Linked DNA regions of Homo sapiens: region 2 is linked to region 1. Evidence: fine-mapped expression QTL. A gene starts in region 1. The other region holds a variant in brackets. All regions are shown on one strand. Distances are from middle to middle.

Region 1 (8,348 bases):
TCCTTTCTGCTGATTCCAGGTCTTTAGATAAACTCAGAAAATCTTTGAATCCACCTATGACCTGGAACTCCCCCCTCCTACCCCCCTTTCAAGCTGTCGGGCCTTTCCAGACTGAACCAATGTACATTTTACAAGTATCGATTGACGTCTTCTGTCTCCCTAAAACATACGAAACCAAACTGTAGCCCAACCATCCTGGGCACATGTTCTCAGGACCTCCTGAGGCTGTATCCCGGGCATGTCCTTAACCTTGGCAAAAGAAACTTCTAAATTGATTGAGACTTATCTCAGATACTTTTTGGTTTACATGACATATTGATATGACATTTTAAATTATTTTTAATATTCTAATTCTTCATTTATATAGACAATGAAGAATTATGTCATTTGGATGATTAAGTTTATACTTTGTAATGATCTTATATGTAAAGAATGCAGAGGACATAGATACTTGGTCTGATTGTTTATCTAATGGGCTTGGAATTCCATTTACCTGAATTCTATTATTTTCAAAATTATTAATTTCAAAATTTCTATGTCAGGAACTGCTTAGCTGTTTAGAGATTGTAAGTTTATGAGTGCAAATGGCCTCCTGATTTTTACAGAACAAAAATACTAGCTCTTCTTTGGCAGGCAAAACACGTTCACTGATATGATCTCCTTATCTCACTTTAAATAACAAAAATTGGCTTTTTCTGAATGTTTTGTCTATGCATCATCTTTAACATTTTAATTGATTTGAAATGATCTTGGCCTTGTAAAGTATGCTTACTAAATGGTTGGGTTTTTCTTTTTCTTTTTAACCAGTGTAAGCATTTTATAGCACCCAGTTCTTTGAAAAGCAGAACGCATGCCATACCTACAAGTTGGCATACAGCCAAGAAAGTCCTTTTGTGTGCGTGTATTTGTGGTGAATCATTCATAGCCTGTAAGATCTATCAAAATAGCTTTGTTTGAAAACCTAGTTTTCCCCATATTTTTTTTCTGATGACTCACACTTCACTGCTTTCATGTCTAGATTCTCTTTTCTTTCTTGTTTCTCATCATGTTCATTCAGAAGATGTTCTTTCACTAGTTCCAAAATTTGTATTTCTATATTCTGTCAGTTTTCATCTTGAAACATACACACAGCAATATGCTCTGAATCATAAAATTCTGCATTAAATCCCAACACTTAAAAAAAACACATATTCTCAATATAGGTTTACCTGCTCCTGTTGCCATTTTTATTTAGTACAAATTTATTAACATTTAAAAATCATTGGCACTTATGAAACTTGAAACTTTATTTTACTGTTAGGAAGATTTTGGCTGCAAGAAATATAAAAACCAATGCTAAGTGGTTTAAATCATAAGAACACTTAACACTTCATGGATGAATATGAAAATATGGTGGTTCAGGATTAGTTGAATTAGTAGTTCAATAATGGCCTCAAAGACTCAGGATCTTCCTATCTTTCTCTTTTGCCATTCTTTTAAATCGATTTTATTAAGGCATAATTTATATATAATTCAATTTTAAGTGTATAACTAGAGGAATTTTGACAAATGTATAATAATGTATCTATTACCACAGTAAAGAAATTTAACATTTGCAACGTTTCAGCTCCTTGCAGTCAATCCCAGCTCTTCGATTTCGAATAAATTATTATATTATATATACTCCTTTGTGTCTTCTTTTACATAGCATTGTGTTTTTGATATTCATCCAGCTTGTTGACTGTATTGGTGCTTTGCTCCTTTTTATTGCTGAGTGATAGTTCATTGTATAGTAGATATAGTATAATTTGCTTATTCATTCACCAGTTGATGGAAATTTATTTCCAGTTTTGGCTATCACATATGAAGCTGCTCTAAAGATTCCCCTACAAGTCTTTGTGTGGATACAGGTTTAGATTTATCTTGGGTAAATATGCGAATGCTGGGTTGTATGTTAATTATATGTTTGACACTATAAGAACCTGCCAAACTGTTTTCCAGAGTGGCTGTACCATCAACAGCAATATAAGAGAGTTCCAAGTTGTTCCAAATCCTTGGTAACTTATTAGTATTTTTTGAAAAGCAAAAGTTTTTCATTTTGATGAAGTTAAATTGTCAATTTCTTCTTTTAGGTTTCCAGCTTTTAAATTTTTTATACTTTATAAGTGCACACATTTAAAGATTATATAGAGTTTCTGCTAGGTTTTCTCTAAAAAGTTTGAGATTTAGATCTTGTATTTAGATTTAGCTGTATGATCAGTTTCAAGTAAATTTTTACATGGGGTGTGAATTAAGGGTTGAGGTTTCTTTCTTTCTTCTTTTTTTTGTATATATGGATGTCTAGCTGTTCTAACATTTGTTGAATATTCTGCCATTCCTGGGGCTTTAGATTAGTACTTTTTCCCATCTTTGTGGTCACACGATGACTGCAGCCATTTTAACCATCACATCAGAGACTATCTCTTCCAAGAATGTGTCCAGCAAACTTCTTTTCACCTCGTTACCTAGACTCAGCACATGCTTATTTTGTACTGTCTAAACCAATCATGGGAATTGGAATGGGGCCAGCATGGTTCATTTATTCATTGAAGAAGGAAATGGTTGCCCATATCCTTTCTAGGGGTTGGGGATACAGTAGTGACGAAAACAGGCAAAAATGTTGCCTGACCTCATGAAACATACAATTTACTGAAAAAGATTGTCTTTTGTCAAAATAAATAATAAACTGTATAATATATTGCTGTATAGCAGTAGGTACTGGGAAAAATACAGGGAAAGAGGCTACGAAATATTGTGGGTGAGCTGAAATTTCAGATAGGATGTTTAGGAAAGGTCTCACTGAACTGACTTTTAAATAAAGACCTGAAGGAAGTGATGGAGCAGTCTATACGGATACCAGGTTGGAGAGTGGTCCAGGTGGCAGTAAATGCGAAAAGTTCTTGAGAACAGCAGGCCACTGTGGTTGAAGAGAGTAATAGGACATTGGGGAGTGGGAGTGCATAATAGGTAGATCAGTGTTCTTTTCAACGACTGGCAATTTTGGCAAAATTTCGTCATGTTGGGGGATATTTTGGTTGTTAACTTGTGTGGGAGGGAGTGCTGAGGAGACCAGGGATACTGCTAAATATCCTACAATGCACAGGACAGCCTATCTCTCAATCCTCCTCCTTCTCCCAAACCCCCAACAAAGAATTATCCAGGCTGACTGTCAATAGTGCCCAGGTTGAGAAATGCTGTTTAAAGTCATAGCGAAGACTGGCTAATTGTGAGTAAATTGGAATAACACTGAATTGTTTTAAGCTCAGTAATTATTTAAGCGTTAAGGATCATGTGGCTGCTTGCTGTGAACAGACTAAAGGGATAAGAGGGTATAAAACATTTAGGAGGGTAATACAATTACCTAGAGAAAAAATATGGTTTGGGCCAGAATGCAGGTAAGGGTGCTAAGTGATAGATGCTGGATGTATTTTGAAGGTTGAGCCAACAGGATTTACTAACACTGGATACATGCCTGTAGGGAGAGGAACCACCTACAAGTAATCTGCTGTGGTTGCTACTGGAGTTGTTTCTTCTCAAAAGGGAGCCGGGGAAGTGGTGGAAAGCTAAACAAATTTGGAAAGGAGGAAAGAGTACCCAATATGGATATTAGGATTATTATGCATCTGTTACATAAATATCTGTAATTATGCATCTGTTATATAAATATCTTAAGAAAATAAGAAAGGACACTGTTGGACCAGTGAATGACTAAGGGCACAATTATTCTATGGACTGTTTCTTTAAAAATACTTTTTTGTTTGTTTTTAGAAACGTCTTCTCATGCCATCTTTCATTTTGGTGACAGTCTGAAAGATGTAGGGAGCCCCAATTCCTTATTCTATCAAAGTCATTAAAGGGCTCTAATTTTCCTTTCAGTATTTGTATCCCAACCAATTATTGGTGGTTACTATGTAGAATGCTGACGTATTAATAATCTTTGTCTAAGCATTTGTTTGGTTTAGTCTAAAATATAAGCTTACTATGAGTCTTTTTTTTCTTTCCTTCGAGACTGAGTTTCCCTCTTGCTGCCCAGGCTGGGGTGCAGTGGCGCGCTCTCTGCTCACTGCAATCTCTGCTTCCTGGGTTCAAGCGCTTCTCCTACCTCAGCCTGCCGAGTAGCTGGGATTACAGGCGTCCGCCACCACGCCTGGCTAATTTTTTGTATTTTTAGTAGAGATAGGGTTTCACCATGTTGGCCAGGCTGGTCTCAAACTCCTGACCTCAGATGATCCACCCGCCTCGGCCTCCCAACGTGCTGGGAGTACAGGCGTGAGCCACCGCACCTGGCCACTATGAGTCTTTATGTATTAGAAAACTGCTTAATAAAGTCCTCACCTTATTGTCATAATCTTATAACCAATAACCTTATAATCTAACAACAAGGGTTATTTCCATTTCACAGACAAAAAAACCTGAAGTTTGTTAATTACGGTGTTAAATTATCCTACGATTAATGGCAGAAATAGGTCCTGAACCAATATGCCTTTGAGAACTTAAACGCGGTGAGTTACATACAGGCCCTCCTAACTGGAGTCTTCGCTAGTACCAATAGTTAGTTGCTCGGCGAGAGCTCGGTAAGGACTAGCCATTTGGAAGCTCGTAGTACTCAGGTTGTGGTACAGGAGATCTAACACTCCTACACAAATGCATGTCGTGCTTATTTCGTACCAAACTGGTCTGGCGGCGGTTCTTCGTCCAGACGCTGGCGGGCCAGGGTGGAGGTAGTAACACAGCTCCCATTCCCCATGTAGCCGCGCCCTCTCCTTCCCCTGGGCGTCTCCGGGGCGTGGACAGGCCGCTGAAAGGAACCGGCTGCGGCCTGTGTGAGGCTCCGCGGGCCGCTGCACTGCGAGGCCGACGCAGCTGGAGAGAAGTTAGGCAGGTCCTAGGGAGGGCAGGCTCGAGTGCTGGGCCCGCCTCCCCGCGGGACTGTAGGCCCGGGGGCTCCGCCTCGTCGCAGCGGCAGGTAGGAGGCGGTGCGCGCGGCCCGGCGACGGGGGATCCTGAGGCCCGGTCAGTCTCTTGCTCTGGGGTCTTGGGTGGCGGGCGGCACCTCCGCTTGCAGTGCCGGAGCCGCGGCCCCGCTCGGAAAAGGGCTGCCGTCGGAGTTAGATGCCGGGGACTCCGGGCCGTCCCAGCCCCCGGGCCTCAGCTCCGGCCCGGGCAGAGTCGCTGCTTCCGCGTTTGGTTCTTTTTTCCCCGCTGGGAGTGAGAACAAGGCGTCCCCTTCTACTCACGTTTGCCAAAAGCGGGTCCGACGTGTTAGCGGAAAAGTGGGTGGAGTTTCTCTTTTTGCCGGTGCAGAGAGAACTTGTGGCGGGAAGTTGGGGCGCGGGGTTGGCCGTAGGTCCCCGGCGTGCTAAGGGCGGACGGACCAGGCGGCTGGGCCGCGCTGCTTCTCGTTACCTTCCGCAGGGTCAGGGGCCGCGGCGGGGTTGGAGGTCAGCCCAGGCACATGTTAACCCCTGGGTACCAGTTTGCTCGGAAACTCGTGTTGAGGACTCATCTTAGCCCTGGGAAGGTACCCAGAAGCCGAAGGGACACCCCTGACAGGGACGGGCCCTGAGAGGCTGTCGTTTCCCTTGGCAGATGAACTCGGGACTCGCCCCCAGGATGTACATTTCGTAGAGTCTCCCTTACCGCCTCAAGCCCTGAGGCCGCTGCCTTGCCCCAAAGTGTATTTATCTTTTTTATAATTATTTAGAATTTATTCCTTAATCAGTAGTTTACACTTTGGAGACTTTAAGTTTTAAATCAGTAAATCTGTAATAGGCACCAGCCTATATAATGTACTGGTCAAGGGAAACCTCCACAAAAACTTTTCCTGCTTTATGATACAATCAATGCTCTAGGCATAGTTCACCATCCAAATTCCCAGCCCTTGTGTGCCTATCAGGAGGAAGGTGAATATTGTTAAAGATACACGCAGCGACTCTACCTGGGACAATACTGCTAAGTAAAAAAGCAGTTAAGTGAAGGAGGAAAAACCCGTTAAAGGAAAAACAGATACTTTCTTTTATGGAAGCTAGGAAGATTATATTAAGAAAACTTTACATTTACGTATATACGTTTTTAATTAACTTTCATGTCAGAAACTCTTAATAGTTTTAAATACTTAGAGGATCATGGTTACCTTCACATTTAAATTATTTTCAGGCATGTATGCTGGCATATGTATTTTCCCCTAAGAAATTTTCTCTTTTAACTCAGAATTTCCCATTGAGAAATTTGCTAACCTATGTACAATTATAATTAGTTGATTAAAGTTGCATGGCTGTGCTGTGGAGATTATGCTTTTGTTGTTGGTGGCACAGTTGTAATCTCTAAGGCAGGACTGTTTTCACTGTGATAAACTGAGAAAGAGGGTAAGAAGACAAAATGCTGAGAATATTTTGGCAGCCCGAGAACTGATGGCCTAGTATTCTGCTAAGTTACATATCCGTGAAAATCCCTGGCTCATTTAACAAATGTTTACTGAGTACCTAGTATCACGGTGGTGAGATGTCCATTGCCATTGTCTGTGTCTTCCCAATCCAATCCTGTGTTCTTTTCTAGTGACTGAAGACCTTCTCACTTTTAACATTTTACATTCTCAGTGACAGCAATATTTCCATGTACATGAAATTTATTTTCTTTCTTCATTGGAAATTGTTAATTTCGTGTTTCTTAAGGTGTGTCCTGCACTGTTAATATGTGCTATAGAACCCCGAAATGAATTTTGGATGAAATTTGGTTAGTTTGCTTCTGTTTTTTTAAAATATCTATACCTCTTAGATCTCAGTATTGTAATGTATGTGAATTTCTAATTTGAATATAATGTGTGGGCTTTTCCAAACTGAATTAACTTTAGAATCCTAATTTCTGGGAACCTGGGAAAGTTCCCTATTGAAGACATTTTGGGAAGTGTATTTTAAGAGTTTTGTTTGTTTGTTTTTCTTTTTACCCATTTATCTCACCCCTTCTGCCAACAGAAGTGATGCCACCAAAAAGAAATGAAAAATACAAACTTCCTATTCCATTTCCAGAAGGCAAGGTTCTGGATGATATGGAAGGCAATCAGTGGGTACTGGGCAAGAAGATTGGCTCTGGAGGATTTGGATTGATATATTTAGGTAAAGTAAAACCTTAAATTAACAATTATTCTTATATCTGTGACTGTAACCGTGATTACTTAGTGGTATTTTAAGAATGGAAATATGGAATTCATATGTGTACTTTATTAAAATTCATGATTGTACTCGATTAAGTAATAATAGAGTACAGTGTCTAGGTTCAAGACATCACTGACCCACTCCTTGTTGTCCATGTTTTTCTGAGTAAATCTTAGAAGTCTTTTTAGAGCATAATTATACAATCTGCCAGACAAAATGCTAACTTTCTTTTTTTTTGAGAGCTTGTTTTCTTAGAAACATGCTTTTTTCAGATGAGAAACCACAACTGTATAGATAAAAACACTTTCTGTTTGTGAATCTTAATCAATATTTAGGCAATACAAGAGTCTAGTCATTTCTTAATTGGGCTCTACTGGAGAATTCATAGATAAAACTTAAGGCATCTATTCTGTGAAATGAATTAACTTCTCTCTCGTGCATCTAGAGTGGTCCCTAGGGATGTGCCATTCTTGGGATAATTGAAAAAATAAACACTCAAAATTATTTTCTGTGATCTGTGGTACAGGTAAGGAACCATGGGCTGGATAGGCCTTTACATTGCATTTAAGCATTTAAAAATTACACTGAACTTTAATGGATCATTGAGTTGGAATGAGGAGGGGATATCCATTAAAAGATTGATTAATAAAATAAGGAAAATAGTAGTGATTTTTAAAAATATACCCTCAAGGATAAATTCTCCTAAATGTACTCACTTGAGACTTGAGATCACATCTATTTCTATAGGAGATTAAGGAGTTGATAAAATACCTCCGTTGAGGGAATCTTGGGTTCTCATCACATATTTCCAGAAAAACATGCTTCATGGATCCTGAAATATAAAAGATCCTCTTCTGATAAAATTAAGATTGTAGTTTTGAATGAATGAATGAATGAAGTTTGGTCAATAAATATCTGCTTATTAAATACTTAAGTGTCTATTCTAGTTGGAAAGACAAGATCAGCACAAAAAATTGTATGAGTCAAGTAAAGGACCCATTTAAAGGGTTTGAACTTGCTTGAAATTGCTTGAAAAAATACTATGGTTATTAAGTGCTAGATTGAATGACATAGTCAACACTGTTCAATAGAAATGTAATACAAGTTACATATGTAGTTTAAAATTTTCTAGGAGCCACATTAAAATACGTTAAAAGAAACAGGTGAAATTATTTTAAT
Region 2 (8,339 bases), 110 kb after region 1:
ACATTAGCTATGTCCCATGTTTTGATATGTTGTATTTTTATTTCCATTCGGTTCAATGTATTTTTTAATTTTCCTGGGGTCTCTTTGACCCATTTAAAGGGGTCTTTAAATTTTAAAGCATTTGGAGATTTTCCTATTATTTCTTTCCTTCATCTTGATCTTGGTGTATTTTCTTCCCTTTTTTCCAGTTTAGGTAGAAGCTTAGGCTATTGATTTGAACCCACTATTTTTTCTAATGTAAGTATTCCATGCTATAAGTGTCCTGCTAAACCCTGTTTGTACTGCATCCTGTAAATATTTATACATTTCAATTTTGTTCACTTCAAAATATATTTCCCCTTGAGACTTTTAATACCTTATTTAGAAATGTGTTAATTCCCAAGTATCTGAAGATTTTTTTTTCAGTTATTGATTTCTAGTTTAATTATATTATGGTCTAACAATATAAATTTGTTAGGGTTTGTTTTATGGATAGGATATGACGGTCTGCCTGGTTGAATGTTCCAGTTGCAGTTGAAAAGAACATGTATTTTCCTGTTTGGGGGTGAAGTAGTCTATAAATATCAGCTAGATCCCATTATCTTGTGATGTTACTGATTTATTTTATATTCCTGCTGATTTTCACTCTAGTAGTTATATCAATTACTGAGAACAGAGCTTTCTAGTTAGGGAGATGTGCGATGCCAACTCTTTGCTGTTTAATGCACAGCAGGCACGGTCAAAAGGGCAAGTGCCTCTCCAGTTTCTGAGGCCAGAGTGGAGGGTTGCTGTTGCTCTGATGTTTGCTCAGTGCAAGGTGGAGAAGGTTGGTAGCTCTCTACTACGGTCTCTACAGTGTCTGGTGGGGAGGAAGACAGGTACCACATCTGCTTGTGTTAGTGCAGGGAGGAACAGGCTATATGGCTCTGCCTTACAGTTTTGGTAGTCTCCTGGTGGGAAGGAAGGGGGACCACCTCAGTAGTACAGGCTGGGAAAGGTTGTCAGAGCTCTATCTCACAATTTCCCTAACACCCAGTGGGATAGGGTATCACCTTGTTAGTGTGAGGACGGTCAACAGGGCTCTACCTGTCTCCACAGTGCTTGATGGGGGAAGGGTAGGTGTGCTCCCTGGTTAGTGTAGGGTGATGATACTCAACAGGACTGTACCCTCCCTCTTCACCCCACCCTTGCCACCTCCCCACCGCCCCCACCATCCCCCCCACCCCGCCGCCCCGTTTCCACAGCACCTGGAGAGAAGTAAGGTACAGCTTCTTTCATGGTGTTCACCTAGGGTTCAGCAGGTATAAAAAGATTCTGTCCTGTAGACCTGTCCTCCCCCAGGGCTATTGGTTACATAGAGCATGTTTTTCATGTTTGTTTTTTTTTTTTTCCAGTCTGTGCATATTGCTGTTTCCAGAACGCAGGCTCTTTTATGGCCCAGGCTGGGGTAATAGGAGGTACTAAAGTACATGGCGGGTGGAGACTCAAGGGAGGGTCATTTTTAGAATTTTCAGTGTTTTGATAGGTGCTTTTTGTCCACTCTTTAATTACCAGAATAAGGTGGGATGCTTACTCTTTCTTGTCTATAACTGGATGCCCCTCACTTTGATTTTGAAAGCTTCATTGAATATGGAATCTATTCTTTCAGAACTTTAAAAAGGATGTTTCCATCTTCATAGGTCTGTTTTTTTTTCTGCTAAGAAGTTAGCAGTTATTCTTATTGGCCCATTTATAATGTATTTCTTTCTGTGGCTTTCAAGATTTGCTTGTTATTTTTGGTTTTGTAAGGATGGCTGTCTTTTGTTTATTGTGCTTTGGGTTCGTAGAGCTGCTTTTATCTGTGGGTTGATATTTGTCTTCAAATTGGAAAGGTTTTGTATGATTTCATCAATTTGTTTCATGCCTTAATCTCTCTTATTTCTCTGAGTTCCAAATACATGCATGTTAGAATACTTTACCTTTTTCATAGGCAGCTAAATAACTATTTTTTTAAATCAGTCTTTTATGTTGCTGTACCTCAGGTTGGGTGGTGGTGTTTTTTTTGTTTTGTTTTGTTTTGTTTTGTTTTGTTTTTGCCTGACCTCTAGTTGATTGTCAAATCAGCTGTTAAACCTAGCCAATGAATTTTTCATGTTATACCCTGTATTTTTCAGTTCCACAAGTATATTTCTTTGTATGTTGAGATTCCACCTCCCCCATATCTGTTCATTAATTATGTTCAACTTTAATTCCTTGAACATATTTATGTAGATGTTTTATAGTCCTTGTTTGATAATTGTACCATCTGGATCAGCCCTGAATCTCTGTTAATTTTTTCTCCTGGTTATGGGTCACATTTCCTGCATCTCATTTGTAGTAGTTTTATTGTATACTGAACATTGTGGATGCTGTGGTCTTTAGACTCCAGATTTTATTGCATTCCTTTAAAGAGTTTTGAGGTTAGTTCTGGCAGACAGTTAACTTACTGGTGACTAAACCTGATCATTTTATAAGTTCTGTTCAGGCTTTTTTGGCCTAGTCTGCAGTAAATCTTAAATTGTGGCCTTTCTTAGGTCTGTGTTATTTTCCCTTCCTGAGCTTTGTTTTAGATCCCTAAGTTATTTCACATATTTTGACTAATTTTGTTTTCTATTATTTATTTATGGGTTTTCACAGCAGAAGGGGAAGTCTGGTATCAGATTTTCATGGCCAGAGTGGAAGTAGTGTTGCTATTTTTCATAGCTTCCCAGTCGATTCTGATGTGCATTCAAAGTTAATAACTATTCTAATGTAGGGTTTCTTGACAGCTGCACTGTTGACATTTGGGAGCTGAGCTGTTATTTGTTGTGGGGGTGCTGTCCTGTGATGTAGGATGTTTCGCATCATTCCTAGTACTTATCTACTAGGTGTCAATAGTATCTCCTCCTAGCTGTAACAACCCAAAATGTCTCCAGAAATTGCTAAATGTCCTCTGTGGGGCAGGATCAACCCAGGCTGAGAACCAATGCTCTATCACAGTAGATTATTGCATTGCCTTGAGCCCTTTGCTACTCAAAGTGGGGTGTGCAGACCAGCTGTATTGGCATCATCTGGAGCTTCTCAGAAATACAGAATCTCAGGTCATACTCCTAGACCTTTTGAATGAGATCTGCATTTTAACAAGTTATGATGATCTGTTTGCTTTCTAATACTCGAAGAATAATGCCGTAGAGCAGGGGTCAGCAAACCTTTTCTTAAAAGGCCAGAAAGAAAATATTTTCAGTTTACTTTCCATACAGTTTTTGTCAGAACTATTCAACAATGCCATTGTAGTGCAAAAGCCCACATAGACAATACATAAACAAATTGATGTGGCTCTGTTCCAATAAAACTTTATTCACAAAACAGGCAACTAGCCAAGCCAAATTTTGGCAACTCCTGTTATAGACTATCCTAATCAGACCCCCTCAGTGTACTGAAGACAACAGGTGGTTAAATTCTTTGATGAGTGCCTTGCCATATGATGTCATTTGCTGATGTTCAAGAGAGATTAAGTGTATAGATTACACAGTAGATGATTCTGGAAATTATAGTAGCTTGACTTCTATCCTTACCTAAGTGGAGATATCTCCCAGCCTTGCACATGTGAGCTATATGTAAATGCTGCTCTATGATTTGATAGCATAATTATTATTTGTATTATGCTTTATAGGCCTACTGGAATAATTATTCACTTATTTTGACTTTAGTTAATAAAGCTGACAAACTTATGAAAAACTGCATTAATGTGACTTCGTTAGCTCAGAAAGAGTAGTTTAAAATGAGTTATTTAACTCTAAAGTGAGTCATTTAACTCTCAAGTAATTTTTTTTCATAGGAAAGCTAGTAGTTTTTAAAACATCCTTTGTTTTATGTAGGACTCCTTTCTGACACTTCCAAAACTCTGTATCTAGAAAGGGGAGGGCTGTTTGTTTGAAGGGTGGCAGTTTAAAGGTTGAGAAGGTAGTAGCTATTCTGAGAATGATGGACAGTGAACAAGCTTAAAGTATTTTGCTTTGTTTTATAAATTTCTTCTCTTCTAAGTTAGTTACTTGATAAATGGTGCTGAGGGGGCATGCCAGATGTCACCAAAGCAAAGCAGAAAAACTCGACTTTCAGCCAGTTAAGTGGTGATCAGGAAACTGATTCCTGGGACTTTGGCCAACAGGAATGATGAAAACATAGAAGTAGCTCCCGAAACTTGCATAAGTAACCAGTTAATTTGTTTTATATTAATACCACTTAATTTGCTTTATATTAATATCTATTCGGTCTATACTGGTTCGTCTGTATAGCTTTCCAAGAGACATAACACTATAGCTACCCCTGAGGCAGTTTTCTTTGGCTGTGTACAGCCTCATCCTTTGCCCACTGTACAGTGGACACTTCTCAGTTGCCATGGAATCAGAAGGTAAAGAAAGAATCACATTAATGACCAAAATATTTCTAATTATGGCTATCTTACCCCCTTAAGATTAAGCCCAATTTTTTGGTTTTGCCAAGAAAATTCAGTTTTCATATTCTATCCTATTTATTTTTAGATTATAAATTACTTAAGAGATGGCCTACTGACGTGGTTTAAAAGAACCACTCAAATTATATCCAGATTTGCTTGTTGGATGTTTATAAACTCTTAAAAAGTGTAAATCTTTAAGATCTTTACCTAAAAATTACTTCTCAGGAAAAATAACACGCAAAAACTTGATCTTGTATAACATTTTATTTAGCATTCTTACACACTACACAAAATAAATACTTGGATAACTCACGTCTAACAAACTAAACTATATATGTATTTTTTCCATAGGAAAGCACAAGGAGAAGACAGAAATATCAAGAGTCTCAAGAACCTTTGAATGAAGTAAACAGTTTCCCACAAAAAATCAGCTATACACAATTCCCAAACTCATTTTATGAGCCTCATCAAGATTTTACCAGTCCAGATATATTCAAGAAGTCAAGATCTCCATCTTGGTATAAATACACTTCCACAGTCAGCACGGGGATCACAGACTTAGAAAGTTCAACTGGACTTTGGCCTACAATTTCCCAGTTTACTCTTAGTGAAGAGACAAACGCAGATGTTTATTATTATCGCATCATCATACCTGTCCTTTTGATGTTAGTATTTCTTGCTTTATTTTTTCTCTGAAGATGATACCAAAATTCCTTTTGATAATTTTTTAAGTTTCCAGCTCTTCACCGAAATGTTGTATTCTTATTTCAGTGTTTCCTTCCAGACATTTTTAAGGTAATTGGCTTTAAAAAGAGAACATATTTTAACAAAGTTTGTGGACACTCTAAAAAATAAAATTGCTTTGTA[C/T]TAGAAATAGTGTCATAGAATAGTGTCATAGTACAGTTTGGAAAACACTTCTGAAGTTTCAGATCACCTAGGAAATCTAGAAAAGGAGTTTAATGTTTTTGATCAGAGAATTTGAAAAATAGAAATACAGAGAATGAGTTTCAAAAGTTTTAGATAAACTGATATACTATATAGATCTATCTTCTAGAACATATTACTGAAAGCTAGGCACATTTTATGAGATGTGATTAACAATTTGCTTACCTTACTACAATATGGACATTCACCAAATATGATGTTAAAACTCTGTCTACTAGTTAGTAGTCCTCTCAGCCACTGCAAATTTTAAAAGATAAAGGAGAAGCGTCAGCATGATTACAAATTACAGATACTCCAAATGTCATTCCCTTTGTTTTTAAGTGCATTATGTTTTTATTCCAGAAGACTTAGCTTAATTTTGTTTTGCAAGAGTAAGGGATGTATTTCCTGAGCCAATAGCAGACTATTAAGATGTTGAGTAACAAGGGAAATCAACATGGAATTGAAGGCCTAAACCACTGGTTTATAACCAGATTATGGGCCCCTTTAAGAATCTGATAAGAATTACGCATTTTCTTTATCCCCAGAATAGACATACATAAAAATAATGCATACTAAGTTCCTGGCATTCATAGACTTTCCCTAAATCCATTAATCACAAATTAACAACTCCTGCTGTTAAAGATACTACAGGCTCTTGAAAATTTCCCTCTTAGTTCTGGTCTGAATCACTAACAGTGGGTTAATTTTCAACCCATTGATTATAAGCATGAGCCAGTGAATTTTTAAAAATTAAATGAATATTCATAATTACAAAAGAAATCACATGTTCCCTTAGAGTATTTCTGTAATTTGACCTGTATTTCTGTAATTTCATGATTTTATATAAGGTAAATAGATGCCTCTGCCTAAGTTCTCCATTGGCAAAGTACAGACGGCACCAACTGCTACCTCTAATCACAAAAGTAAAGATGTGATATTAAGGAAGACTGAAACCGAAGGCAACATACAATTGCAAGGTGTTCTGTATATAGTTACACACAGTTTATCATGTATCAACTAGGCCCTAAGGTGAAGCCAGGCACTAAAGACAGGAATGAAAGTAGACTTCACATACAGTAAGTAAAGTGGCATTGCCTGAGTGCTGTGAGACTCAGATCACAAAAGGCATTCTTCTCAACATGAAAAGTAGTAGTATTGGATATATTCTATTCTTAAATGCAGCCTGAAAAGTAATAGATACTACATAGTACTAATTTCATTTTCACTGTATTACTGCCACTTTCAACCACCTCCACCTCGGGTAAACCTATGAAGCTTACATTGTGGTAACAAGGAATTTATAGAAAGATTCCAATGTACCATCAATTTAATTTGTTATGTGTCAATAAGCTAGTCCATGAATATATTCTGGATAGATTTTCTCCCTTGGATACTTCAGAACATTTCTCCACTCATTAGTAACTGTGATGAAGAAATGAAGCACATAAGCATCTGGAATAAACTGGTAAAAGGAGTTAATGGCAAAAGAGAGGATCACTATTGACTCAACAGATTTTAGATTCTGTGTATTTCAAACAGGAATACTTCCTATGTTGTGTTAGCGGAAAAAAGTCTTGACAATATTTTTATTTTTTACCTCATATAAGCATATTTGATGGAAAGGTTGTCCACACTGAGAATTATCACACACTTGATCAGGAATGGTACCGTCAAGTTGATAAGCATAACAAATTCCACAATCCATAGTAAAATCCTTCAAAAGAAAAATATTTATAAAAAGCGTATGTGTCTCACTAACTTATTCGTTGTACATATTTGGGAGGGTATGTGTGATATTTTGATACATGTATACAGTGTTTAATGATGACATCAGGATAATTAAGATATTCATCACCTCAACATTTACCTTTTATGTTGGGAACATTACAATTCTTCTAACTACTTTAGAATACGAAATCATCTATGTGTTTAAAACACAAGGTAAGATCAGGAAGAATGTTTTATAAATATAGTTTTTATAAAGGTGACTATATTGCTGTATTATAGGAAATATAATTACATTACTATTTAACACCTAGCAAAGCTATTGTAGGGTGTTTCCTTTTCCACTCAAATATACACAGCTAGGCTAAAAAAAGAGATTCCATTTTTGGCTGGCAAGATGTTTGGGCATCAGTAATATTCCCATATCATACATTGTTATAATGTCCCTGATAGTATTTAAAGAAAGGAATTGATATTAGCTAGTGATTACTAAACAGCACAATTCTGTAACTAAAGGAAAAAGAAACTCACTACCATTTAGTAGTCTACAACCTTAGCAGCCTTGTCAAAAATCAATTCTATTATTTTTGCAGTATAGTGGTATCTATTCAATTTTGAGAAACTATAACTGCTTCACAAACACTTACATCAAGCTAATCAGTATTTGAGCCATCCATAAACAGACTATGTAGAAAAGCCAAACATCTCATTAGCTACTTTGGAGTTCTCCCCTTATTTTTAATAAATGTCTGTCATTAATGACGTCACTACTGAAGACCATGAAAAAAGTATATAGTTGACCCTTGAACAACATGGGTTTGAACTGCACAGGTCTACTTATACACAGATTTTTTTTTTAACCAAATGCAGATCAAAAATACAGTACTGACAAGATGCAGAACCTGTGTTTATGTGAAATCTCTGTATACAGAGGGCCGACTTCTTCTATATATGGGTCCTGCAGGGTAACTGTGGAACTTTAATGTCTGTGGATTTTTGTATCCATGGGCAGCCCTGAAATCAATCCCCCTGTTCCAAGAGACAGTTGTACTTAACAACCAATCAAAGGTAAACAAGTTTTTTGATGCAGATCAGAAGTCTGTGTTATAATATTTTTCTAATTCCCTCCTTTTTCAGCCTCATTTTTCACTGAGAGAAGCATTTAAACTTCATTATGCAATACTGTCTGGAATATCAAAACACTGATAAAACTTACAGATTTTTCCAGGATAGCACGAGCTGGAAAATCAATTTC

The links. PIP is the estimated chance that this variant, and not a neighbour inherited with it, causes the effect.
Region 2: its variant is fine-mapped to the expression of VRK2 in whole blood (TOPMed, PIP above 0.99).

The regions. Positions count from the first base shown.
Region 1 is chr2:58,041,838-58,050,185 of GRCh38, forward strand. VRK2 (VRK serine/threonine kinase 2) reads left to right here and starts at 4,969. Exons shown (of 13, transcript NM_006296.7): 1 at 4,969-5,031; 2 at 6,990-7,130. The coding sequence starts at 6,995. LOC107984043 (formin-2-like) reads right to left here and starts at 5,396. Exons shown (of 3, transcript NR_171623.1): 1 at 4,687-5,396. RefSeq lists enhancers at 4,237-4,792, 4,682-4,801, 4,793-5,348 and a silencer at 4,952-5,221.
Region 2 is chr2:58,154,566-58,162,904 of GRCh38, forward strand. It overlaps VRK2 (VRK serine/threonine kinase 2), which reads left to right. Exons shown (of 13, transcript NM_006296.7): 13 at 4,784-5,306. The coding sequence ends at 5,128. FANCL (FA complementation group L) reads right to left here. Exons shown (of 14, transcript NM_018062.4): 11 at 8,301-8,339; 12 at 6,957-7,073; 13 at 5,543-5,614; 14 at 4,682-5,235. The coding sequence ends at 5,200. Among named protein-coding and RNA genes, the nearest start is that of FANCL, 83 kb to the right of the region's middle. The variant C/T (reference allele first, on the strand shown) is at 5,300.